2 separate regions of the Homo sapiens genome follow, and region 2 is linked to region 1. Evidence: fine-mapped expression QTL. A gene starts in region 1. The other region holds a variant in brackets. All regions are shown on one strand. Distances are between the middles of the regions.

Region 1 (16,393 bases):
GTAACTATGGTAACAGTATTTGTTGTCAATAAAATTTGAGCTTTCAGGCAAAAATCAGAATTGTATCCATCATCATGAACTTGACAGATTCCCAATACTGATGAAATTGGTATTTCATCAGATATTAACAAAAGTGATATGGAAGACTTCCTTAGCGAACCAAAATTTCCAAAATGACCAATTCACGATGCTAAAAAACTCTGCTTGGGTAAAAAGATCCATTTAAAATGCAGGATCAATCAATGAGATTTTAATTTAGCAGAGTAAAAAAGTTCACGAATATGATTTCAGATTCTACACTGCAATAACCTTTAAGTAACCATCACTTGTTAAGTTTTAGTGAAATACCAAAGAAAAATACCCATAATTACCTGAAAAGGCTATTAAAGTATTCCTCCTACCTTTTCCAACTACATATCTGTGTGCGGCTGGATTTTCTTCATATATTTCAACTGAAACACCTCATCACAGCAGATTACAAAGGCAAGTGTTAATAGATATGATAATTGCCTTCTATTAAGCTGGACATCAGAAAAGATTTTCTAAAAAGTAAATCAATGCCACCTTTCTATTTTGAAAATATAATTTTTTTCATAAAGTTATTTTAGGATATAATGAGTTTATTAGTGTCATTTAGAAAAAATAAGTAGTTTACAAATGTCTCCATTTTCCTTTTCTTTTTTTCTTTTTTCAGACAGGGTCTCCTAAGTTGGAACATACTGGTGTGATCATGGCTCACTGCAGCCTCAACCTCCCATGTGATTCTCCCACCCCAGCATCTCAAGTAACTGGAACCACAGGCACATGCCACCATGCCCACCTGGATAATTTCTTTCTTTCTTTTTTTTTTTTTTCTTTTTTTCATTTTGTTTTGTTTTTAGTGGAGATGAGGTCTCAGGCTAGTCTCAAACTCCTGAGCCCAGCTGATCTTCCCACCTTGGCCTCCCAAAGTGCTGAGATTACCAAGCTGTGAGCCATCACGCCTGGCCACGGTTTTAATTTCTAATACAGTAAATGTTGGAAGATACAGCCCACATAAACAGAAGTTGTTTGGGGTCCTCAGTAAGTTTTCACAGGGCAAAAGGATTCTGAAACCAAAAAATTTGAGAACTACTGACATAGGTATTATAATAAACACTAAATATGAATTTAACCACAATTGTTAAACATTATTTTAGAAAGCTAGAAGAGAAGCAGAGCACATAGAAATGGTTAATGAAAAACAGAAATGTGGGCCAGGCGCAGTGGCTCACGCCTGTAATCCCAGCACTTTGGGAGGCCGAGGCGGGGGGATCACTTGAGGTCAGGAGTTCGAGACCAGCCTGGCCAACGTGGTGAAACCCCGTCTCTACTAAAATAAAAATACAAAAATTAGCCAGACGTGGTAGCACGCACCCATAGTCCCAGTTACTCAGGAGGCTGAGAAAGGAGAATTGGCTGAACCTGGGAGGCGGAAGTTGCAGTGAGCCGAGATTGCACCACTGCACTCAAGCCTGGGAGACAGGGTGAGACTCCATCTCAGAAAAACAGAAATGTGCTTTAAGTTACTTGCCAGAAAAAAATGCTTTGATGATCTCTGTTTACTTATCTAACACAAACGTCATTTCATTCTAACCTGTGATATCTATCTTCCTTACTAAGCCATGACCTCCAGAGATGCTATCTTCACCTCTGTAACCCAAGGCCTGATTACACGTATCATATACCAATTAATAAATAATTATTTGACTCAGCGAATGAATAAATGAATGAGGTAGCCCAATTCACAAAATTAAGTCATACTCACCAAACAACTGTTTCTTCCATTTTTAAAAATCTACATACAGCAGCTCTGCAAAGTTGTTTTTGTTTTTTTTTGTTTTTTTTTTTTTGAGATGGAGTCTCGCTCTGTCGCCAGGCTGGAGTGCAGTGGTGCAATCTCAGCTCGCTGCAACCTCTGCCTGTCACATTCAAGCGATTCTCCTACCTCAACCTCCTGAGTAGCTGCGACTACAGGCGTGCACCGCCACACCCAGCTAATTTTTGTATTTTTAGTAGAGACGGGGTTTCACCATGTTGTCCAGGATGGTCTTGATCTCTTGACCTCATGATCTGCCTGCCTCGGCCTCCCAAAGCGTTTGGATTACTGGTGTGAGCCACTGCGCTCGGCCTTTTTTTTTTTTTTTTTTTGAGACAGAGTCTCGCTCTGTAGCCCAGGCTGGAGTGTAGTAACACCATCTTGGCTCACTGCAACCTCAGCCTCCCAGGTTCAAGAGATTCTCCTGCCTCACCCCCTCAAGTAGCAGGATTACAGCCACCTGCTACTATGCCTGGCTAATGTTGTATTTTTAGTAGAGACAGGTTTCACCATGTTGGCCAGGCTGGTCTTGAACTCCTGACATCAGGTGATCCGCCTGCCTCGGCCTCCCAAAGTGCTGGAATTACAGGCCTGAGCCACCATGCCCACTGGAAAGTTATGTTTTCTTAAATCAGTGATTCTATGATTTGTAATGTAATGAATTTACACCATTCATTATGTAAATACACGGAAAACCACATATATACAAAGGAATATATATCCATATTGATCTATCTATATTGGCCATTTCTTTCCTTACCTGTGATAACTTACAGCAGGCACTCTTGAATTTCAATAACACTAAGACTTTTTTCCCTCCTCTTTTCTTACCTCTTAATCTCTTTTGGTCCCTCTGGATTATACCTCCCCTTTATGTACCATCAACCACCTTTAGTTTAGCATGACCAACAAAAGACCCCTGATAGCTCCCAGAACCTAGAGACAAACTAGAGAAAAACAATCTTACCAATAGTATGATTTCCATAAAGGAGCTGCTCCAAAATTGCAGTTTTCCCCACAGATAACAATCCACAAACCACAACCTTGCAGCCCTTTCCCATCTTCTCTCAGGATATCACTGTGGAGAGAATAACAGGTCTTTTAAATTGTATACTGTTGAAATTAACCATTTCTTTTTCTTTCAGTATTTCAATTTAATATGTAACACATGCACAGGGGAAATTTTCAAATACAGAAAAGGAGATATAGAATAAGGTATAGCCTTCCAAACCCCATTCCCCAGTCTCCCATTTCCTCCCTTAGAGCAATAAGCATTATCAGTTTCTTATATATCTCACGGAGACAATGTAGATAAATATAAGAATACAGGCCAGGCACAGTGGCTCATGCCTGCAATCCTACCACTTTGGGAGTCCAAGGCGGGTGGATCACCTGAGGTCAAGAGTTCGGCACCAGCCTGGCCAACATGGTGAAACCCCATCTCTACTAAAAATACAAAAATTAGCCAGGCGTGGTGGCACTCACCTGTAATCCCAGCTACTGGGGAGGCTGAGGCAGGAGAATCACTTGAACCCAGGGGGCGGAGGTTGCACTGAGCTGAGATTGCACCACTTCACTCCAGCCTGGGTGAAAGAGCTAGACTCTGTCTGAAAACAAACAAACAAAAAAACACATGGATAGGTATGAATACATCTTTGTTTTCAAAAAGAATAAATACATTTTATATGAAGAATATTTCAATACTGATTAAGTCTATAGCAATCCAACAGACTCTTAAATCCTTGAAAGAGACTGCCTACTCATCAATATTTACCTGGAAAAATAAACATTTAAGTAAAAATTTAAGGAGGCATGAGGATAAAGTTTTTAGAAAATGGACATGATTTTTCAAAGAAACATGAAAGTTTATGTCAGTCTTTTCTCGAGAAGGGAAGAAACTGGATTTTGGTAGTCACGTGGGCTTTTTTTTTTTTTTTGAGACAGGGTCTAGCTCTGTCACTCAGGCTGGAGTGCAGTGATGAGATTTCGGTTCACTGCAACCTCCGCTTCCCAAGGGCAAGCGATTCTCCTGCCTCAATCTCCCAAGTAGCTGGGATTACAGGTGCCTGCCACCATGCCCGGTGAAATTTTTGTATTTTTAGTAGAGACGGGGTTTCACTATGTTGGCCAGGATGGTCTCAAACTCCTGACCTCAAGTGATCCGCCTGCCTTGGCCTCCCAAAGTGCTACGATTACAGGCGTGAGCTACTGCGCCTGGCTGTCACGTGGGCTTTCTTAATCATATTTCTTTTTGAGGAAGAATAGACAACTCTAGAAAAATTGCCCATGCACAGGACTTCATGACTAAAACACCAAAAGCAATGGCAACAAAAGCCAAAATAGACGAATGGGATCTAATTAAACTAAAGAGCTTCTGCACAGCAAAAGAAACTACCATCAGAGTCAACAGGCAACCTACAGAATGGGAGATTTTTGCAATCTACCCATCTGACAAAGGGCTAATATCCAGAATCCACAAAGAACTTAAAAAAATTTATAAGAAAAAAACAAACAACCCCATCAAAAAGTGGGCGAAGGATATGAACAGACACTTCTCAAAAGAAGACATTTATGCAGCCAACAGACACATGAAAAAATGCTCATCATCACTGGCCATCAGAGAAATGCAAATCAAAACCACAATGAGATACCATCTCACGCCAATTAGAATGGTTATCATTAAAAAGTCAGGAAACAACAGGTGCTGGAGAGGATGTGGAGAAATAGGAACACTTTTACACTGTTGGTGGGACTGCAAACTAGCTCAGCCATTGTGGAAGACAGTGTGGCGATTTCTCAAAGATCTAGAACTAGAAATACCATTTGACCCAGTAATCCCATTACTGGGTATATACCCAAAGGATTATAAATCATGCTGCTATAAGGACACATGCACACGTATGTTTAATGGGGCACTATTCACAATAGCAAAGACTTGGAACCAACCCAAATGTCCATCAATGATAGACTGGATTAAGAAAATATGCCACATACGTCGGGCGCGGTGGCTCATGCCTGTAATCCCAGCACTTTGGGAGGCCAAGGTGGGCGGATCACGAGGTCAGGAGATTGAGACCATCCTGGCTAACATGGTGAAACCGTCTCTACTAAAAATACAAAAAATTAGGTGGGGCTTGCAGTGAGCCGAGATCATGCCACTGCACTCCAGCCTGGGTGACAGAGTGAGACTCCGTCTCAAAAAAAAAAAAAAAAAAAAAAAAGTAATACACTACAAATGTACTTTGATCACTCATTGATAATATGATTATCAGGATAATATAATTATCAGGATAATAGGATTAACAGACAACGTTTGCTAAAAATTATACATTGTTTTGTATTGTATGTATATATTAATAAATTGGGGAGTTCCTTTTGATATTACCAAAGAAGTCTTCATCATGGGCAAACGGTAAAAGTAACTGAATAAAAGTAGCTCAAAACACTAGCTAAGAATTTTAAGCATTTTTTGGAAGGAAAGCAAAGAGATGACAGAACAGACCTCATTAAATATTTTACACTATCAAAAAGAAAACAAAGATGAAAAGATAAGTGTGATTAATCAAAGCAGGCTGAAATATTCTAGGTTCCTGGTTGCCTTCCAAATAGGAAACAATACCACTACATAAAGCAGATGAGTGCCTTGCTACCATCAATTACAAAGTTAAGAATTCTTTAAAAAATAATTAACATTTTGAATAAATAACACATACACAAAAATACTTTATTTTCTATAAATGATCGCTATGGCAGGAACTCACATTACAAATAAGTGGTTCTCATGCTTAGATATTTTCAGATTTACAAATAAAAACTACTAAAAGTTTGGTTCTTAAAGCACTTATAATTATTTAATAATTCCCAAACACAATAAATGTACACCAGTTCCTGCGAAATATACAAAGGTGGTCATCTGCAGTACCCTGAATGGGCACTGAATCACATGAACCGATCCTGGGGTAACCAAGCCTCTTACTTAAATCTAGGTTTCAAGAATTTGAAAGGCTCTGTAGTACATGGGTCACCTTTAGGTTCCTTTCAACACTGTGATGCCATGATATTAGAAGTTGCTTATCCAGAGAATACATCAACACTGAGGTGAACACAAAAAGCAGTAGTTACAGCTACTTGTCACATCCCTACCCTAAGAAACTGGGCAATAAAATTCAATCTGTGACCTATTAAACCTCACCTGATGTAAATTACTAAGAGAACGTGCTTAATAGGCAAGATTCAGGGCAGTCTTAAATACTTATTGCTTTACTTTCCAGGCTAATCAATAACATTGCTAGAGAATAAATACAACCTCCTCTCTCCAACTTGAGGCTAAAAAAAAAAAAAAACAGAGAGTAAATATATGACCTGGTCCATTCCTGTGAAATGCTTTGTCAACATTTTCTTTGAAGAGCCATCAGAAACAGCTCCCCAAAACCGTTATTGCTTCTGTTCTTCTATGTAAGTGGGCCATTCTATTTTTATAAGTAAAACACAACTTTCTGACGCAACCAGAAAAACAATACCAAAACACTGTTAACATCATAGGAGAGATGTTATAAATCTCTAAAAATACTGTCATGTGGGGAAACCACCTACACTGTGTATTTACTTATGTCAACATTATGTATAGTGTGGAATACTTTCACTTATCCATATATGAATATATTTACATACATAAAAATATATTCAACAGGTTTTGCACACAGTATTGCACAAAATAAAATGTAATAAAGCAGATTCTAGCTTACCATTCTTTTATTCATTTACCAAACATTTACTGAGGGCCTGCCATCATGCCAGCCATCAGGGACAAACTAGGGGGCAAAAACAGAAATCATCCCTTGTCCTCAGGAATCTCAAAATCAACTGGAAACACAAATCCAAATCTTGTAAAACTGTTAACTGAGAAACTACAAATTGAGAAACAAAACTGCAAATGTGATTGATAAATTAGCAGTGATTATTCACACTACTAGAATTGTTTTTCCAAATGATTCATCCAACTTTTTAAATTTTATTTTTACTGCTCCTTTAGGAGCAGGACTACGCCCATAGGCAGCGTACCTACAGTAGCACATTCAACTTTTTAGTCATCCTCACCTTTGAAATACATACAGGGCTGCACTACTTACCATTTTCATCACTACTGAAGTGGTCTGGGTGAGGCACCATGTTCTCTCACCTGGTCTCTCAAAGATATCGTAATCCCCCAAACCTGTGAATATGTTTACTTTACATACTCATACAAGAATTTTGCGGGGGTGATTAAATTAAGAACTTCCATACGAAGATATTATCCTGAATTATCTAGGTGGGCCCAGTGTAATCACAAGTGTCTTTATAAGAGACACACAGGAGTGCTGGAGAGGACAGAAGGTGTAATTGGAAGATGCTCCTTTGCTGGCTGTGAAGATGAAGGAAGCAGTCAGGAGCCAAGGAATTCAGGCAGGCTTCATAAGGTGGAAAAGCCAAGGAAATAAATGTACTCTCCCCTAGTACCTCCAGAAGGAACACAGCCCTACTGACTTTGGTTTTAGCTTGGTGATATTTACAGATTTACAGACCTAGTCTGATGTACAAACTAAAAGACGGTAAATTTGTATTATTAACCAACAAAGTTGCTGAAATTTGTTACAGGAGCAATGGAAGACTAACACAATTTCCTAAGCAGTCTCTCTGCTTCCATTTTTTCTCTCCTTTTAGCCTCAAAAGGAGCAATCCGAGTTATCTTTTTAAAATGTACGCCATATGAAGTCATCCTTCTGTTCAAAATCTGCCAATGAAATCCAAAGTCCATGTGAGAACCTTCACCTCTCCGACGTCATTTCCCACTTTCCCCTACTGTGAATTTCAGCCACACTGCTTCCCTGCTGTTCCTCTATTAATCTTGCATGCTCCAGTCATGGCTCTTCTCCCTCTGCCTGAATCAGACCCCTACTCTTACTCCCAGACTCCTATCCTTGAAGTCCTTTCTTAAATGTTACCTTCTCTCAAAGACTTAACCTGGACACTCCATTCCAAATTGCAACCCTCAGCCGCTAACACTCCCTCATCACTTCCCTCCCCTTATCTTTTTTCCTTAGCATTTACCACCAAACCCAAAACACAGCTTACTTCTGCTTACTGCCCATTTCCAAGAAGGCCAAAAATTCTGCGTTGTTTCCTGCTGCATCCCCAGCAACTATGCCTGGCACATATTAGACACTTAATAAATATTTGTTGAATCAATCAATGAACCAGATAGAGACTCTTAAAAACGTAAAGCTGTGATTTAAAAAGAAAGAAAGAAAAATATGATGTGGGAAAAAAGATAATCAAAACCGCTACGATTAAGAGATAATGATTCTCTTAAGCCTTTGCCACATCTGAACGCATAATCTGGAAGGAAATTAAAGCCACATGACTTAAATTAAAGCCAAGTGAAAATATTCTGGAGAAACAAAGTAAGCCAGTAACCTATTTCTCAATTTAAAAAAAAACCCGCAACGCAAAATGCCAGCATTTTCTCGGCATTTCTTCTCTAAAACATTCACACCTGCCAAACAGGTCTTGGCAAATAAACATTCTGCTCTTCTGAAAAACTGTGGTTCTCATGTTAGCAAATTTGGGACGAAATCCGTATGCAGAAAAAGCGCCGGGCCGCCCGCAATCCACCCACTCCATGACCCTTTTTTAGGACAAAATCCCTGGGCGCTGGGGCCTGCTGGAGGAGCTTCACGCAGTCTGGAGCTGAAGGGACACAGCGAGCGCCCCGACCCGCGACGCCCCGACTCCGCGAAGGCCTCCCTGGGAGGCTGGGGAAGCGTCGGGGGATCTCTCAGCGCAGCTCTGGGGCCCAGATTTCTGCGCCCGTCGTGCGGTGGCCAGAGAGGGACAGCGCAGCGCGGAGACGCGGAGACGCAGAGACTCCGCAGGGGGAGAGCCCGCGGTGCGTGAAACAAACCTGTTCTCTCCTCAGACCTCAAAGACAGCGGCTCCACCGCGGTACGCGGCCACCGGCTTTGGAGCCTGGACCCCAACTTGCCTCCTCTCGCGGAGAGACAGTCGCCGACGCTCGCTTAGCCGCCGAGACCTCGCCGCCAACTCTCTCACCTCTCGAGACGCCCAGGCCGCTCAGGCTCGAATCTTGCGGAGCAGGGGGCGGGACAATAGCGGCCGCGGCGCCCCACTCGGCAGAACTCCGCCACCAGGCGCGATGCCGGAACTACATGTCCCATGACGCTCTGGGAGGCCGCAGCTTTCCACCGGAAAGAGGGTGGCTGAGGTGGGGGAGGAGCCCAAAAGGCATTGTGGGAGTACAGCTCTTTCCTTTCCGTCTGGCGGCAGCCATCAGGTAGGCTGCGTTGAGGATCTTTGCTCTTCCATCCGCCTTTGATCGTCTTCCTCTTCAGCCATCCAGGTCCGGGGACCCTGCGTCCTCGGAGATAGGTCTCCCTCCTGTGCGGCCAGAGTTTGGTCAGGATGCGGGACAGCAAAGGGGTGGAGAGGCGGCCCCCGGGGCGGGTTGAGCGAAGATGTGATGGCGGCGCGAATTCGAGCTGGGCCCGGATCCTGGAGGAGGCGTGGGGCTGACGAATGGGGCGCCCGGGACAAGGCAGCCTAAAGTGAGGCTGCTGGTTGGGTGGGGTAGATGCATTTTCCTCGAGAGTTAATCCTCGGTGGCCGCAGCAGTACCTTGTCCTGTGATGTCAGCGGCATCTCCTTTCAGGTCCTCCTTGGGGACGCCGCCTGCCGCAGCCACCCGCCCCCTTGGTGCTCAGTTCTGGTTCTGTTAATTCGCCCCACCAAAACGTGCCGAGCACCGCTCTGTGCTGGGGTTGCGGAAGTGACTGAACGCGGCTCCGTGGGCGCAGTGGTGGGGGTTGGGCTAGCTGTCCCCGGCAGTTGGTGCAGAGCCATTTTCATTCCCGGCGGTTTCCTTGTTTTTGTTGGGGAACTAAGATGGACGGATACAGTCGTCTTATTGTACTTAAAGCGGATGATATTTAATACACAGTTTGATTTCACAGGTAAGCCAAGATGGGTGCATACAAGTACATCCAGGAGCTATGGAGAAAGAAGCAGTCTGATGTCATGCGCTTTCTTCTGAGGGTCCGCTGCTGGCAGTACCGCCAGCTCTCTGCTCTCCACAGGGCTCCCCGCCCCACCCGGCCTGATAAAGCGCGCCGACTGGGCTACAAGGCCAAGCAAGGTACGTGATCGACTGCGTGGATGCTTGGATAAAATTATATTCGAGAAAAGTTGGAAACCAGCTGTTAGGAAGACACTGCTGCCTCAGTGTCTTTCTTCGCATAGGGCTTTGGCAGAAAAAAGCTAGCAACACTGGTCAGTTACTGTATGCACTGTTGTCTAAAGTGGCAAGTGTGTCAAAGGTTACAAATCTGAATGAGTTCAGACTAAAGCAAAATAAACAGTGTGCCTCCCTGTGTGAGTAGCCTAAGGTGCATTGAAAAAGACTGGGATGTGTTTTATTTTTTTCTATTAGATAGCATTAACTTACTGTTGAAGTATTTTTGGTGGAGTATTAGTGACAAGCCATTGAGTCTTAAGCCTTACGGCTTCCTATAAAATCACTAATTTCGTGTGTGTTTGTGTGTAGGTTACGTTATATATAGGATTCGTGTTCGCCGTGGTGGCCGAAAACGCCCAGTTCCTAAGGGTGCAACTTACGGCAAGCCTGTCCATCATGGTGTTAACCAGCTAAAGTTTGCTCGAAGCCTTCAGTCCGTTGCAGAGGTAAATGGTTTTGAGTAGCAGTTATATTGAATACTGCCTGGGGATGGTGGGAGAGAGAGATTAAGCAACTTTTCTGATTGTACTTAGGTGAGCTGTCTCGTATATAAAACAGGGTTTGTGATTTTTACTAATCTTGGTGAAGAGTAATTGCTTGAAAGACTTGTCTTTGTTACAAATGCGTGTGTATATACTGGAAGTACTTGTGGAACCTAAGCTTTAAAGCGGCAAGAATATGCAGAAGAGACCAAATGTGGCCTGCACAGCCTAAAATATATACTAAATATTTTTAAAGCTAAACGTTGCTGAGCTCTCAGTTGTATGGAAAAAGATAAGGTCCCCAAACCCTAAATTTTGTTACCCAGATATTAACATATTCCTGCCCTAGTCAGGAATGGAGTATTAAGAGGGAATGATGTGTTTCAGTCTATGTGTGTTGTTTTAGCAAGTCTACATTATCTCATTACACTTGTGATAGTCTAGGGAGAAATGCTTAGTAAATAACTTGAGTAGTAAAAGACTCTTGTCTGGTGGTGAACTAGAGTTGAGAATTAAAATTCTTTCTGACTTGCTGCTATAGGCAATGTGGGAGATTGACCTTGGGCCTTTTTTCCTATTCTAGGAGCGAGCTGGACGCCACTGTGGGGCTCTGAGAGTCCTGAATTCTTACTGGGTTGGTGAAGATTCCACATACAAATTTTTTGAGGTTATCCTCATTGATCCATTCCATAAAGCTATCAGAAGAAATCCTGACACCCAGTGGATCACCAAACCAGTCCACAAGCACAGGGAGATGCGTGGGCTGACATCTGCAGGCCGAAAGAGCCGTGGCCTTGGAAAGGGCCACAAGTTCCACCACACTATTGGTGGCTCTCGCCGGGCAGCTTGGAGAAGGCGCAATACTCTCCAGCTCCACCGTTACCGCTAATATAAGTAAAGTTTGTAAAATTCATACTTAATAAACAATTTAGGACAGTCATGTCTGCTTACAGGTGTTATTTGTCTGTTAAAACTAGTCTGCAGATGTTTCTTGAATGCTTTGTCAAATTAAGAAAGTTAAAGTGCAATAATGTTTGAAGACAATAAGTGGTGGTGTATCTTGTTTCTAATAAGATAAACTTTTTTGTCTTTGCTTTATCTTATTAGGGAGTTGTATGTCAGTGTATAAAACATACTGTGTGGTATAACAGGCTTAATAAATTCTTTAAAAGGAGAGAACTGAAACTAGCCCTGTAGATTTGTCTGGTGCATGTGATGAAACCTGCAGCTTTATCGGAGTGATGGCAATGCTCTGCTGGTTTATTTTCAAGTGGCTGCGTTTTTTTTAGTTTGGCAGGTGTAGACTTTTTAAGTTGGGCTTTAGAAAATCTGGGTTAGCCTGAAGAAAATTGCCTCAGCCTCCACAGTACCATTTTAAATTCACATAAAAGGTGAAAGCTCCTGGTTCAGTGCCATGGCTTCATGGCATTCAGTGATTAGTGGTAATGGTAAACACTGGTGTGTTTTGAAGTTGAATGTGCGATAAAATTATTAGCCTTAAGATTGGTAAGCTAGCAATGAATGCTAGGGTGGGAAGCTGGTGAGCCAGTGGCCATTAGATAAATACCTTTCAAGTGTGAGCTTAGACGTCAACCCTAAAATACTTAACCGTAATGCTAATTGTGATCATTATGAATCCCTTCAGTCACATTAGGGGGAAAGTAGTTGGCTATAAGTACGTCATTCTTAGTCCAGTCAGTCTTAAAAACATCTTGGGTTACCCACTCTGTCCACTCCCATAGGCTACAGAAAAAGTCACAAGCGCATGGTTTCCAACCATATGTGTTTTCTGCAGTTATTTCTCTTGTTCTGGCCAAACAACCCTAAAAATCCTTACCATTCCACAAAGTTGGACCATCACTTGTGCACCCACTTTGACTATGAGTATACCACCACATTGCATTTCTGTTTGCACCATGTCTTCCAGGAGACTAGACTACTGTTGTCCAGGGTCAATTTGAGTGTAAAGAAAATGTAGACAAGGAATTGCCCAATTTTAAATTCTGACTTTGCTGACTTAATTTAAATGCTCGTTCTGAACCAATTTTCTCCTATCTTCTCTAGGGGTTTCAAAAGACTCAGTTAATTGATTTCCAGGAAGTACTCATAGCAAGTTCATAAAAGTTCTTGAGACCTAAATTTCTTCACAAAAAAAGAAAAGATCTTAAGTCATACATTTTAATTGTGTAGAGGTTGTTCAACTGAAGGAATAAATGTCTATTAAACTAAAACAAATGGACCTTCTGTTATTTTTTGTCATCTTACAGTGCTAATGTACTTTAAAGCAAACCAAATGCCCTAACCAGCAAAAAGGCATCAAAATGTGATTATAGAAATAATATAATTTGAGATAGCATAAAATGTACTTATTCTCTCAGTTCTTTGATCATTGCATGAATTAGGTTTTTATCTAAAACTGTTCAGCTGGGTGTGGTGGCTCAGGCCTGTAATCCTGGCACTTTGGGAGACAAGCTGGAGGATTTGTTGAGGCCAGCCTGGGCAGCATAGTGAGACCTAAAAACAAAAAAAATCCTTAAACATGACTAATTTGGGAAGGAGAGAAAGGGTTCGGGCCAAAGGTCAGCATTGTCTCTACAAGAAAACCTTGTTCCTGTCCTTGCTACCCAACAGTTTTATCTCCACACAGTAGTCCAAGGGATCCTATTAAATTGATCATGGCACTCCCGTGCAAAAAAATCAAAAGTCCTCATGATAGCTTTCATGATCTTCCCACTTTATGTGTGACCTCATGTCCTACTGCAGTCCACACCCCAGGCTCCTTGCTGTTTGTTCTTCAAATACACCAAACACTTCCTAATGCCTTTATGATGGGAAAGCTTTACTCCAATATTAAGGGTCACTTTATTAGCTATACCCTGACCGCCCCACAAGCTGTTCCCATTTGCTTTACTATTTCTATATTGGCATGTAATTCACACAGCAACATTGATTATTGAGTTTTTTTTTTTTTTTTTTTTTTTCCAGATGGAGTCTCACTCTCACTCAGGTGGGAGTGCAGTGGGGCAATCACGGCTCACTGCAACCTCTGTCTCCCGGGTTTGAGCAATTCTTCTGCCTCGGCCTCCCAAATAGCCAGGACTACAGGCGCACACTGCCATGCCCAGCTAAGTTTTGTATTTTTAGTAGAGACTGGGTTTCACTATGTTGGCCAGGCTGGTCTCGAACTCCTGACCTCAAGTGATCCACCTGCCTTGGCCTCCCAAAGTGCTGGGATTACAGGCGTGAGCCACCACCCCCAGCCCAATTTTTATTTTTTGTACAGACAGGATCTCACTATGTTGCCCAGGTTGGTCTCAAACTACTGGCCTCAAGCAATCCTGCCTTGGCCTCCCAAAGTGCTGGAATTATAGGAATGAGCCACCACACCGGGCCCAAATTTACTTTAGTAATAACAACAATTGGCTGGGTGCGGTGGCTCACGCCTGCAATCCCAACACTTTCGGTAACCAAGGTGGGCTTGAGCTCATGAGTTAGAGAGCAGCCTGAGCAACGTGGTGAGAGCCCATCTCACAAAAAATAACAAATCAGCTGGGCATGGTGTTGCACGCCTGTAGTCTCCGAAATCACACCACTGCACTCCCATCTTGGGTGATAGAGCCAGAACTTGTCTCAAAAATAACAATTGGTTTCTTACAATCCCAAAAGGTGCAGTTACTAGTATTAATCCTTTTTTGCCAATGAGGAAACACAAAGATGAAGCAACTTGCTCAAAGTCATACAGTGACAGTCTGAATTCAAATCCTATACACTTAAAGTTTATTTGTTTTGTTTTGGTTTTTTTTGAGATGGAGTCTCACTGTGTCGCAAGGCTGGAGTGCAGTGGCACGATCTCAGCTCACTGCAACCCGGGTTCAAGCGATTCTCCTGCCTCAGCCTCCCGAGTAGCTGGGACTACAGGCACGCACCACCACACCCAGCTAATTTTTGTATTTTTAGTAGAGACGGTTTCACCATGTTGGCCAGGATGGTCTCGAGCTCCTGACCTCAGGTGATCCTCCCGCCTTGGCCTCCCAAAGTGCCGGGATTACAGGTGTCAGCCACTGCACGTGGCCAACTTAAAGTTTTTGATAGATAATACATTAACGTTAAAAATTCAAAAGATAAGTATAGGCTCTACAGTACAAACCCTTCTGCCTCCTAGTTCCTCTCCCTGGAGGCAAGGTGATCAGTTTAACAATATTTTTTTATTTTGAGACAGGGTCTCACTGTTGCCCAGGCTGGAGTGTAGTGGCGCGTTCACAACTTACTGTAGCCTCAACCTCCTGGCTCAAGCAATCCTCCCACCTCAGCCTGTCGAGTAGCTGGAACCACAGGTGCACACCACCATGCCAGGCTAATTTTTGTATTTTTTGTAGAGACAGGGTTTCACCATGTTGTTCAGGCTGGTCTCAAAGTCCTGGGCTCAAGCAATCTTCCTGTCTCTGCTTCCCAAAGTGCTGGGATTACAGATGTGGGCCACGGTGCCTGGCCTACATATGTATTTTTTCCTTTTCTTCCCCAAGTGGTAGGATATGATACACATTGTTGATTTTTTTGTTTAGTTATGTATCTCAGAGCTTATTCTTTATCAGCTCATGAGGAACTTCATTTTTTTTTTTTTTTTTGAGATGTAGTTTTGCTCTTATAGCCCAGGTTGGAGTACAGTAACACAATCTTGGCTCGCAGCAACTTCTGCCTCCCAGGTTCAAGCGATTCTCCTGCCTCAGCCTCCGAGTAGCTAGGATTACAGGTGCCTGCCACTACATCCAGCTATTTTTGTATTTTCAGTAGAGACGGGGTTTCACCATTTTGGCCAAGCTGGTCTCGAACTCCTGACCTCAGGTGATCCGCCCATCTCAGCCTCCCAAAGTAGTGGGATTACAGGCATGAGCAACCGTGCCCGGCTGGAACTTCATTCTTTTGGTATAACTGCATGGTATCCCATCATGTGGATGTACCATGATTCATTGGATGTGGACCCTCCTGATGGACATTTAAATTTCTTCCAATCTGTTGCTATTACAAAAAGAAAAATGTGTGCATACATCTTTATTCATCTGTAGAATAAATTCTTAGAAGTAGAATGGCAGAGTTAAAAATTGTATGTATATAATTTTTTATAGATATTGCCAAATTGTCTTCCATAAAAGTTGAACCAATTTTCACTACCACCAGCAAAGTAGGAGAGGACTTGTTTATCCACACCCTCTTTAATGTATGTAATCAAATTTTGGGATATCTGCCAGTCTGTTAGGGGGAAATGATACTCTTCTCTACTTTTATTTTGCATTCTGAGTGTGGCAGAGGCAAAGCTATGTGCATACCATAGCTTTTTCTCCCCCTGAAAACACAACTAAACTACATTGTTTTCCTGGCCTCTCATGCATTTAGGTTGGGGTCATATTACTTCCCTCCAAGAAAAACAACAGTTGGTATGCCTCCTCCACACTTCCCACAACTGTGGAAGCCAGTGATCCAGATAGCATAGCTATTAATACAAGATGGGTGAAAGCTGCTCAACCGCATCAGACAGCATGAGTGGTAAGATTTTATTGTGTCAAACGACTGCATTAGTTGTGTTTTGTTATTATGGCAGCATAGCCTAGCTTAGCCCTAACTAATTCAATAAATAAAGTTGAGCATTATTTGTACATTTAAAAGCGTTTTTTATGTTTGCTTTACAGTGGCTTTCCACTTTTCTATCAGAGAATCCCCCCTCCCTTATGTACCATGCTATATTAATAAATTGGAAGGAGCTGCTAGCTCATTTCTCCTATGCTTCATAAT
Region 2 (9,666 bases), 35 kb after region 1:
CGCAGACTGGGTAGCACCGCCCCTGTTAGGATGCCGTCTGTTTACAAAAAAAACCGTTTGCTCTAGGACGCGACCTGTCTCATACACACACAGTCTTAAAAACTGCTTCCAGATCCCTTCGGGCTGGAGTTTTCCAGTAAACGGGTCACACCCGCAGCTGAGCGTGCAGCTCACGTATGGTCAGGATGACTCAGGTGATCATAGGTGACTCCAACACCATATGTAAGACTGGACATTCTTCATTTAAATTAAAAAAAAATTAACCTGTGGGTCGCTGACTTTTCCTGAATCTGATCAAGAGAATTTGGCTTTATAAATATTTTTCTTGTCACATTTTGTTACATTGCAACGGAACAACAGGGTGCCCTTCCCTCCTTTTGTCTGCCCCAAATGATGAGGTAGATCTGAAGTGAGTGAGGTTATGGAAACAGCCAGCTTTTGTTTTATTTTTTGAGTTGCAATGCGCCTCTAAGAATCTTGCCTCGATAACAAATGTATTGTGAACTTTTCACCAAAAGTAAAAATAAAGTCACTTTCTAATTTTATTTACGTATTTTTAGAATTTACTTATTTTTTTTAACCTGTTGTCTCACAAAAATCTGGATCTAATTGTGTTTTGATTACCTAATCGGCCTACTTAGCCTTTGAGGGTATTTTTAAAATTTTATGAGTTTATCATAGAATTAAACTTCTACATGTTAGAATTCAGAGGTGATCAGGGTGAACCTCTTCTAACCCACCCTTTAGCATGAATTCTAATAGCTTTAGTAACCTCATAAGGGCTGGCTCAATTAGGAAGTTTTTCTCTGGTTTGAGCCCTCTTCCAATACTTCGCTGATCTAAATCTTGCCTCGTGGAGCAAGGCACATTATAAAAATTCCTCCGGATGAATGTTGACCATCCCCTTCCCCCTTCAGTTCTTCCATTTACAGTTCTCATCTCTTTGTCCTTGCCCAGCATTGTTTTTTCTGATCACTCATCATCCTTGTTGCCGTTTGGGATGGAGCACCCAGAAGTGAACAGGCTCTTGTGGAAGTGGTTGGATGATTATCAAGTTCCAAGTTGCCCTCTTTGTCTTGAATCCTGTTGCAAATGAATTCCCTGGCAGGCTTAGTATTTTTGGCATGTTGCTTTGCTGACTCACAGTAACCTTGCAGTCAACTAGGACCTTTCACGTGAACTATTATGAAGTTAGATTTCATTCATTGTGCAGATAATTGCATGACTTGAAGTGTAGGAATTTACAATGACCATTCTTAAAATTTCTCTCGTTCATTTGGCCTTAAGTTCAAAGCTGTTACAAGCTGTTACCCACCATGTTTACAGTTTCTGCTATCTATCAGTAAGCAGGAGGTCTAATAAGAATTGCCTTAAACTGGCCGGGCACAGTGGCTCACGCCTGTAATCCCAGCACTTTGGGAGGCTGAGCCGGGCGGATCCCCTGAGGTAAGGAGTTCGAGACCAGCCTGGCCAACATGGTGAAACCCCGTCTCTACTAAAAGGACAAAAATTAGCCGGGCGTGGTGGTGGGCTCCTGTAATCCCAGCTACTTATGAGGCTGAGCAGCAGAATAGCTTGAACCTGGGAGGTGAAGATTGCAGTGAGCCGACATCGCGCTACTGCACTCCAGCCTGGGCGACAAGAGCGAGACTCCCATCTCAAAAAAAAAAAAAAGCCTTTTAACTTTCGAATTTTTGTAAACATTGACCAAGGTGGGGCCAGATTCAGCGCTGTGTGGCACACCTCTACCCTTCCCTCTAGTTTGGTTATCAGTTGACAAACATTCAACCAGTGATCCTGTAATCTTACTGTCCTTCGTGACATCTCTATGTCTCCTCGCCCCATGAGTAACAAGTGAAAACAGTGGAGTAAAAGACTTGGAAAAAAATTGGAGAGGTGGAGCAAAGAAATCTTTCCTTGGAGCAAGGAAAAGCAAGAATTGAAGAAAAGTTGCTCTACTGGTCAGTAGGGTTAAGAGATTCAAAAGGTAGTGTGGAAATAACCTACAAAGAAACCACTGGATCCTTAACACACATTAAAAAATGAGGTGAATAATGGGTAGGGAGGATTAGTTACTTTGGTTTGAACCATTCTGTTGGAACTCTTCTAGTATAATGATGACAAAAAAATAATCATCAGCTTCTTACTCTGTGCCAGGCCTTTTACATGTGTTCCTCATGTTAATTCCATGAAGGAAGGTGCCGTTGCCACCATCTTAATGATGCGGGGCTAAGTAAATTGAAGCTAAATAACTTACTCAGGCAAGTAGTAGAGCCAGAATTTGAATCCACAAAATTTACTTGGGAACACAAACTGTTAACTACTGTGCTATAATGTACTTTAGCCTGCATAATATTTGAAGATTTATACGCAACTTGGTGGTCCTGTCTTCTTGAGGGTGAAGGAGATACTGCATGTGTATGGATCCCCACTCAATTTGCAGTGATATATGTAGGTTATAGCTAGTGGAAAAGGATAGTCATCTGCAGGGCCTCCCAGTTTCATCAGTCCTCTCTTTAGTCATGCTGGCTTATTTCCAGACATTAGATTACACCTTGACCTCCCTTCTCCAGTAATTTACATGGAGATAAAAATAATGTCTATTTTATAAAATAAGACCGATTTGGCTGGGCATGGTGGCTCATGCCTGTAATCCTAGCAATCTGGGAGGCTGAGATGGGCAGATCACCTGAGGTCAGGAGTTCGAGACCAGCCTGGCTAACATGTGAAACCCTGTCTCTACTAAAAATACAAAAATTAGCCGGGTGTGGTGGCGGGTGCCTGTAATCCCAGCTACTTGGGAGACTGAGGCAGGAGAATCGCTTGAACCGAGGAGGCGGAGGTGGCAGTGAGTCGAGATCACACCATTGCACTCCATCCTGGGTGACAGAGCGAAACTCCGTCTGAAAAAAAAAAACAACAAAAAACACACCATTTATTTTTGTGTCACCCTATTTAAAAAATGTCTCTTTTGATGATTTAAACAGTCTTCAATTCCCCACTTAGATATTGCAACCTTGGATGTGTTTGCCCCTATTGATTTCTGCCCTCTTTAGTATGATCCTCAGCAGTCACAATCATGTGTGTGAAACATTGCTCCTAATAACATAGGTGTTTCCCCAGTTGGCCTATAAGGCATTTTAGGGAAAGGACCATGCTGTTCTCTGGAGCCCTGACACCTAGGACACAATTGGAATTTTAGTGCTTCAGTTAGATCTACTCTACCACCCTTGGAGTAGAAATTATTTATAACACTTTTAAAATGAGGGAAACTAAAGCTTCTTGGTGATAAAATGTTTTGTTCTAAGTCACAAGGCAGAAAAGTACAGTCATGACTTGAAGTCAAACATAATCTCCAGGATGGTGGACAGAGGAAGTGTGAGGGTTTTGATGATGGACAAGTGTAGAAAATGGGTAAGAAGACCCCAATATATGCAGGAATATCAGTGCTTCCTAGCAGTACAAAATTGGATATTGACTTAAGGCTTGTCTGAAGTTGACCACTGGGTAAGCCCTAGCCTGGGAACCTGGCCCAGGTCCAGGGTCCCTTTCAACTGAAAATAGAGAAGACTGCTTCAGCTAATTTTAGCTCAGGGTTTCAAAGAGGTACATACTGCCTGTTTCTTGGAGGTGTTGGGACTTGCTGGTTTGGGGATTTTTACTCTTCTTACTTTATCATCAAAAACAGTGTATGAAAAAAGCACTTATGAATGCCATTTCATTTCAGTCTTGTAATAAGTGGCAGATATTCCAATTTTATAGAAGACCACTCAGGTTTAGAAAGATTGAAAGTGACTTGCTTGCTCAGGTCTTCTCACCAAATAAGTTTGTACTCTGGAATTGGACAACCTTGACTTTAAACTTTGGCCTGCCACTTAGTGGCTGACTTATCCTCTCTGAGCTCCTTGTTTAAAAAATGATTTGATGAAAGTTAATTCACAGAGTTCTTCTTGTGAGGATGAAATTGTGTCATTTTATTCCTGACATCCAGTAGGTACTTGGTGACTTGTAGTTTCACTTTCCTTTCTTCATTAGGTTGAGGAACTACTAGATGTACTCCTTTTCTTCTAAGAAATTAAAATTTAACCCATTTGGGTTGCTATCAGTCAGGTTCATAGATGGGTGTCTAGTAGCAAGAATAGATGCCAAGACAACTAAATCAATATTGAAGGTCTTGCTAGGAGAATGCAGCTACTTCTAGATGGGTCTTCTTTGATTTTCTGGTGCCTGGCACAGATGCTTGTTTTCTTAAGACAGGAATTGGATCTTCGCTGGATTGATAATAGCCCAGTAGTTTCTTTTAGGTTGGATATTGAAGCTTTTGCAAAGGAAATTGTTTTTTGGTTAATTAATTACGATACAGTCCATTGCCCCGTCAGTGCTTGCAACCAATTTTTAAGCCATCTGCATAGCTCTAATTTCTTTTCTTTTCTCTTTCTTTTTCTTTTTTTTTTTTTTTTTTTGAGATGGAGTTTTCACTCTTGTTGCCCAGGCTGGAGTGCAATGGTGCCATCTCGGCTCACCGCAACCTCCGCCTCCCGGGTTCAAGTGATTCTCCTGTCTCAGCCTCCTGAGGAGCTGGGATTACAGGCATGCGCCACCACACCTGGCTAATTTTGTATTTTTAGTAGAGATGGGGTTTCTCCATGTTGGTCAGGCTGGTCTTGGACTCCCGACCTCAGGTGATCCGCCTGCCTCGGCCTCCCAAAGTGCTGAGGTTACAGGCGTGAGCCACTGTGCCCGGCCAGCTCTAATTTCTAAAAGTTTATTTCTTAGCTAAGGTAGTCAGCAGATCTTGTGAACATAAATGACTGAAAATGGGGGCCCTAGGAAAGTCTTACTTCCAAGGAAAAACATCACTTTCTTATCTTTTATTTTCCTGAGATGTTAGATGTGAATTTAGTACTTAAGACACTATTTTAGAGAAGACAAATAGCTGTGAGATCTTCCTTTGGAATTTCATTGAGGACTAAGAATATTTGTCTTTGTAAAGTGTCCTATTGTGAGTGGAGACATCTGTGAAAAAGTAGCAGTGTGCTAATACCTGGAATTTTTAATGTGGACTTAAGATCTCTAAAGTTATATAAAGACAGCACAATGGTTTTATCCAGTAACATGACACTGGCTAGGTTTCTAGGTTAAGTTGGTTTCTCTTTGGATTCACAGGGTATTAATGATATTCTGGCGGTTGTATCGATGAAATCATCAATCTTTAAAACTATGGGCCAATTTGTGTTTGAATTCACTGATTGTAGCCATTTTGAAACTTCAATGTGCAAATAATTGCTTGGAGAGCTTGTTAAAATTGCACATTCCTGAGGATGTGTTCTCGTCTGGGCAGGGCCTTGGAAACATGTATTCTGAAAAAGCACCAGCTAGTTTTGAGGATATGTATTTTACATAATTTCTCTGGGTGATGAAAATAAACTCGAAGTTGGGAATCTTTCTTCTTGTGTTTGTAGTTTTGGAGTTTTTAGATTTTAGAATAAATGGTAGATGAAAACTACCTTGGTCACTTTGTCTTCCAGGGAGCACAGATGAAGTAGTTGGCTTGTGGCAGTGTTCTTCAAACTTGGATGTGCATCAGAATCACCAAGAGGGCTTATTAAAGTTTCTGATCCAGTAGATCTGGAGCGGAGCCTGATAATTTGCATTTCTAACAGATTCTGGGTGATACTGATGCCCCTAGTCCAGGGCCCACACTTTGAGATGGTTGGTTTGTAGTTAGGGACCATGTTGCAGGAAAAATATTAATTGCAGGATTAATTAAGGTGAGATGCACATAGCAAGAGAGCATATGGACAGTGGGTTTAACTGGGAAGAGCAGATTTGCACCTCTCACCTCATGATCGAGTCCAGGCATAGGCTTCATGAATAAAACAGTGGATGGAATTGTCTACGTTAGTGATATTTTTGTCTTAAAAATCAAGTGCATATAGTTGAATTTATGTATGTTAAATTTGTGTCTGGGCTGGGCACGGTGGCTCACACCTGTAATCTCAGCACTTTGGGAGGTGGAGGCGGGCGGATCATCTGAGGTCGGAAGTTCGTGACCAGCCTGGGCAACATGGTGAAACCCTGTCTCTACTAAAAAAAAAACAAAAACCAAAAACAAAAATTAACCAGGCGTGGTGGCGGGCGCCTGTATTCCCAGCTATTCAGGAGGCTGAAGGAGGAGAATCGCATGAACCCGGGAGGCGGAGGTTGCAGTGAGCTGAGGTTGTGCCACTGCACTCCAGCCTGGACAACAGAGTGAGACTCCATCT[C/CA]AAAAAAAAAAAAAAAATCGTGTCTGATGAAAAACATTGTGTGTTTCTTGGCATAGTAGGCACCTGTTTTATCTTCCCTTCTGGGTTGCACTCAAACCCCTTGAGAGTTGTGGTTGTGCTTTCCTCCTCAGAGGGTTTGTTTCTTAGCCTCAATATATATAATTGGTGCTTAAAAACACATCTGATATCTACTACATGACAGACTAAAAGTGACTCTAAATTTCTCTGCCTGTTTTTTTTTTTCTTGCCTAAAGACGGCAATGTCTGTCTTTTTGGGATTGTTTTGGCCTCAGCATTTTGCTTTGTGGATTTTTGTTTAAAAATGATTGATAGGCCCGGTGCGGTGGCTCACACCTGTAATCCCAGCACTGGGAGGCCAAGGTGGGTGGATCACCTGAGGTCAGGAGTTCGAGACCAGTCTGACCAACATGGTGAAACCCCATCTCTACTAAAAAAAAAAATACAAAAATTGGCTGGGGGTGGTGGCATGTGACTGTAGTCCCAGCTATTCAGGAGGCTGAGACAGGAAAATTGCTTGGACCCAGGAGGTGGAGGTTGCTGTAAGTCGAGATTGTGACACTGCACTCCGGCCTGGGTGACAGAGTGAGACTCTGTCTCAAAAAAAAAAAAAAAAAAAAAAAAAAAAATGCCAGTTTTCAGAAGGGTTGTGGCGGTTATATAAAATTGGGAATCACATTTTGACAATAGCTCTGTGTAGAGGGAATTAGCTTCAGCCTTACTGTTATTCTGGTATAGCATGCATTCTTCTAGCATCTTTAACACCTATAAAGAGCGAGTCAGAAGAACAAGTAGTGAGTCTGGATTTCTTAAGAGCTGCTTAGAGATGAATGGCAGAATGGGGTAGAGAAGGGAGAGTATTGAACTGGGGATTGGTTAGTGGATAGCCACATATGTCTTCTGGGAACACCAAAACAGAAAGGTGTGGGAGCAAGGGCTGTGAAACGATCCCTGTTTTGAGATAATTTACCTTATCTACCATTCTAAATGTTACATCTGTTCTGGATTAACCTGTGCTTCTAGCCAAGTGTTGGGGGAGGCAAATGATAAATTCATTGTTTCTAGGATTGTGTCAGATAACTATAACAGGAGGCAAAGAAGAGACCAGAACCAGATTTCTTCATGGCCAGTTTGTTTGAGCAATGAAGTTACTTAGGAGCATTTTTTAGTCCTTTTAGGAAAATACTGGAAAATGAAAAGCTTTAGGTGTGAGGATCTCCATGTGCTCAGAATATCCAAGCCAGTGAAATCCTTCTCACTTAATTTTTTCTTTCTTTGAGATGGGGTCCTGCTCTGTCTCCAGGCTAGAGTGCAGTAGCATGATCATGGCTCACTACAGCCTTGAACTCCTGGGCTCAAGTGATCCTCTCGCTTTAGCCTTCTGAATAGCTGGCACTACTAGAGGTGCTGGGTGCAAACCACATGCAGCAAGTTTTTAAATTTTTTTGTAGAAACAGCATTACCTTATGTTGCCCAGGCTGGTCTCAAATTCCTAGGCTCAAGCGACAATCCTCCCACCTCAGCCCCCAAAGTACTATGATTACAGGCATGAGCCAGTGTGCCGGGCCTATCTCCCTTTTTAAATCAGTGGGAGTTACATGTGCTTTGAACTTTGCGGAAGCAGGACGAATAATGGGAAATAAGGAAATACTTTATTTTTTGCTTTTGGTGTAAGCAAACATTTCATATCAGTATCCTGTTTCTAAAGTTAATGGCTTTACTGTTGAGATTTGCAAAAATAAAAAATACGTATTATCTTGTATCTAATTATGTGATTTTCCTCCTATTTTCTAGGAGGTGTGATTGCCTATATCAGTTCTTCCAGCTCAGCCTCAAGCCCTGCCTCTTGTCACAGTGAGGGTTCTGAGAATAGTTTCCAGTCCTCCTCCTCTTCTGTTCCATCTTCTCCAAATAGCTCTAATTCTGATACCAATGGTAATCCCAAGAATGGTGATCTCGCCAATATTGAAGGCATCTTGAAGAATGATCGAATAGATTGTTCTATGAAAACAAGCAAATCGAGTGCACCTGGGATGACAAAAAGTCATAGTGGTGTGACAAGTAAGTTACTTTGGTTTTCTAAAGATTGCTGCCATTAATTGCAAATGGGGCTTATTTTATCAGCTTTTCATTTAGGTGGCCATTATGTTTCTGGGTACAGTTTTCACTCCTTGCTGGGTAATCATACATCAGTAGTTAGGGAAGAAATCAGTGATGATGATAGAAGTTATAACCTAGGGGCTGTCATTAATTCTTGCCTCAGAGCAAGACATGTGATTATGTACTCTGCCTGACCCTGGTCCCTCTAGGGTACCCTCTTTTACTACATTTCACAGTTACTTTTCTTCTGAACTACTAGAACTAAGTCTTGTTTCTAGAACAGAGTACTTGCTCATTGTGGGAAGGGGTTACGTTAGTGAAACTGGATTTGGGAATATTTGGGATGAGGAAATGTTGGATTGGGATAACCAAATGAGTAGGGGGATTTGGACCTATCTGGCCTCTGTAGGTGAAGTAAATTGACACAGCTGCCTGTGGAGAGATATCCCTTTCCACCTTTTATTGATTGACTTCTCTGTCTGAATTCTTAATTGTTATCCAGAGAATTGTTTTCTTAGTTCTGGTTGCATATCTGGTATAAAGTAACTCTAAATTTACAAAATTTCTTATTTCCTGCTGACAGGTCTGGAAAAAAAATAAATTTACAAAATTTCAGTGTAATTCTAAAATCAGGAAAGGAAAAATCCGGGTCAGCGAGGTATTTTTGTCAGTGCCATAAGTTGTATTTAAAAGAAAATTATGGCTGGGTGTGGTGGCTCACACCTGTAATCCCAATATTTTTGGAGGCTGAGTGGGGCGGAGTCCAGGAGTTCAAGACCAGCCTGGGCAACATGGCAAAACCCCATCTCTACTAAAAATACAAAAATTAGCTGGGTGTGGTGGTGCATGCCTGTAGTAGTCCCAGCTACTTGGGAGGCTGAGGCATGAGAATCACATGAACCTGGGAAGTGTGGAGGTTGCAATGAGCTGAGATCACGCCACTGCGTTCCAGCCTGGGCGACAGAGGGAGACTCTATCTTTAAAACAAAACAAAGCAAAACAAAAAAAAAACACCGTAAGAAAATTATGATTGTGATTACTTTTGATTTGAAAATATTTTTCTTTTACATTATGAAAGTAGATGTGTATCTTCTAAAAGCTCTTACACGTTGAATGAAATAAAATATCTAATTGGAAAGAAAACAGACTCGGTGTTTCCTCCTACTTTTTACTTCGTGTCCTTTTGTGTCCTAGAATTTAGTGGCATGGTTCTACTGTGTAAAGTCTGTGGGGATGTGGCGTCAGGATTCCACTATGGAGTTCATGCTTGCGAAGGCTGTAA

The links.
Region 2: its variant is fine-mapped to the expression of RPL15 in whole blood (INTERVAL, PIP 0.97).

The regions. Positions count from the first base shown.
Region 1 is chr3:23,908,007-23,924,399 of GRCh38, forward strand. It overlaps RPL15 (ribosomal protein L15), which reads left to right and starts at 9,126. Exons shown (of 4, transcript NM_002948.5): 1 at 9,126-9,167; 2 at 9,844-10,025; 3 at 10,434-10,570; 4 at 11,190-12,983. The coding sequence starts at 9,854. The coding sequence ends at 11,495. NKIRAS1 (NFKB inhibitor interacting Ras like 1) reads right to left here and starts at 8,984. Exons shown (of 5, transcript NM_020345.4): 1 at 8,778-8,984; 2 at 3,323-3,444; 3 at 2,805-2,915. The coding sequence starts at 2,898. RefSeq lists enhancers at 8,588-9,387, 8,639-9,838, 9,768-9,867.
Region 2 is chr3:23,946,459-23,956,124 of GRCh38, forward strand. NR1D2 (nuclear receptor subfamily 1 group D member 2) reads left to right here. Exons shown (of 8, transcript NM_005126.5): 2 at 8,079-8,345; 3 at 9,579-9,666. It also overlaps a transcript of NKIRAS1 not described here. Among named protein-coding and RNA genes, the nearest start is that of NR1D2, 6.0 kb to the left of the region's middle. RefSeq lists a silencer at 2,280-2,574. The variant C/CA (reference allele first, on the strand shown) is at 6,267.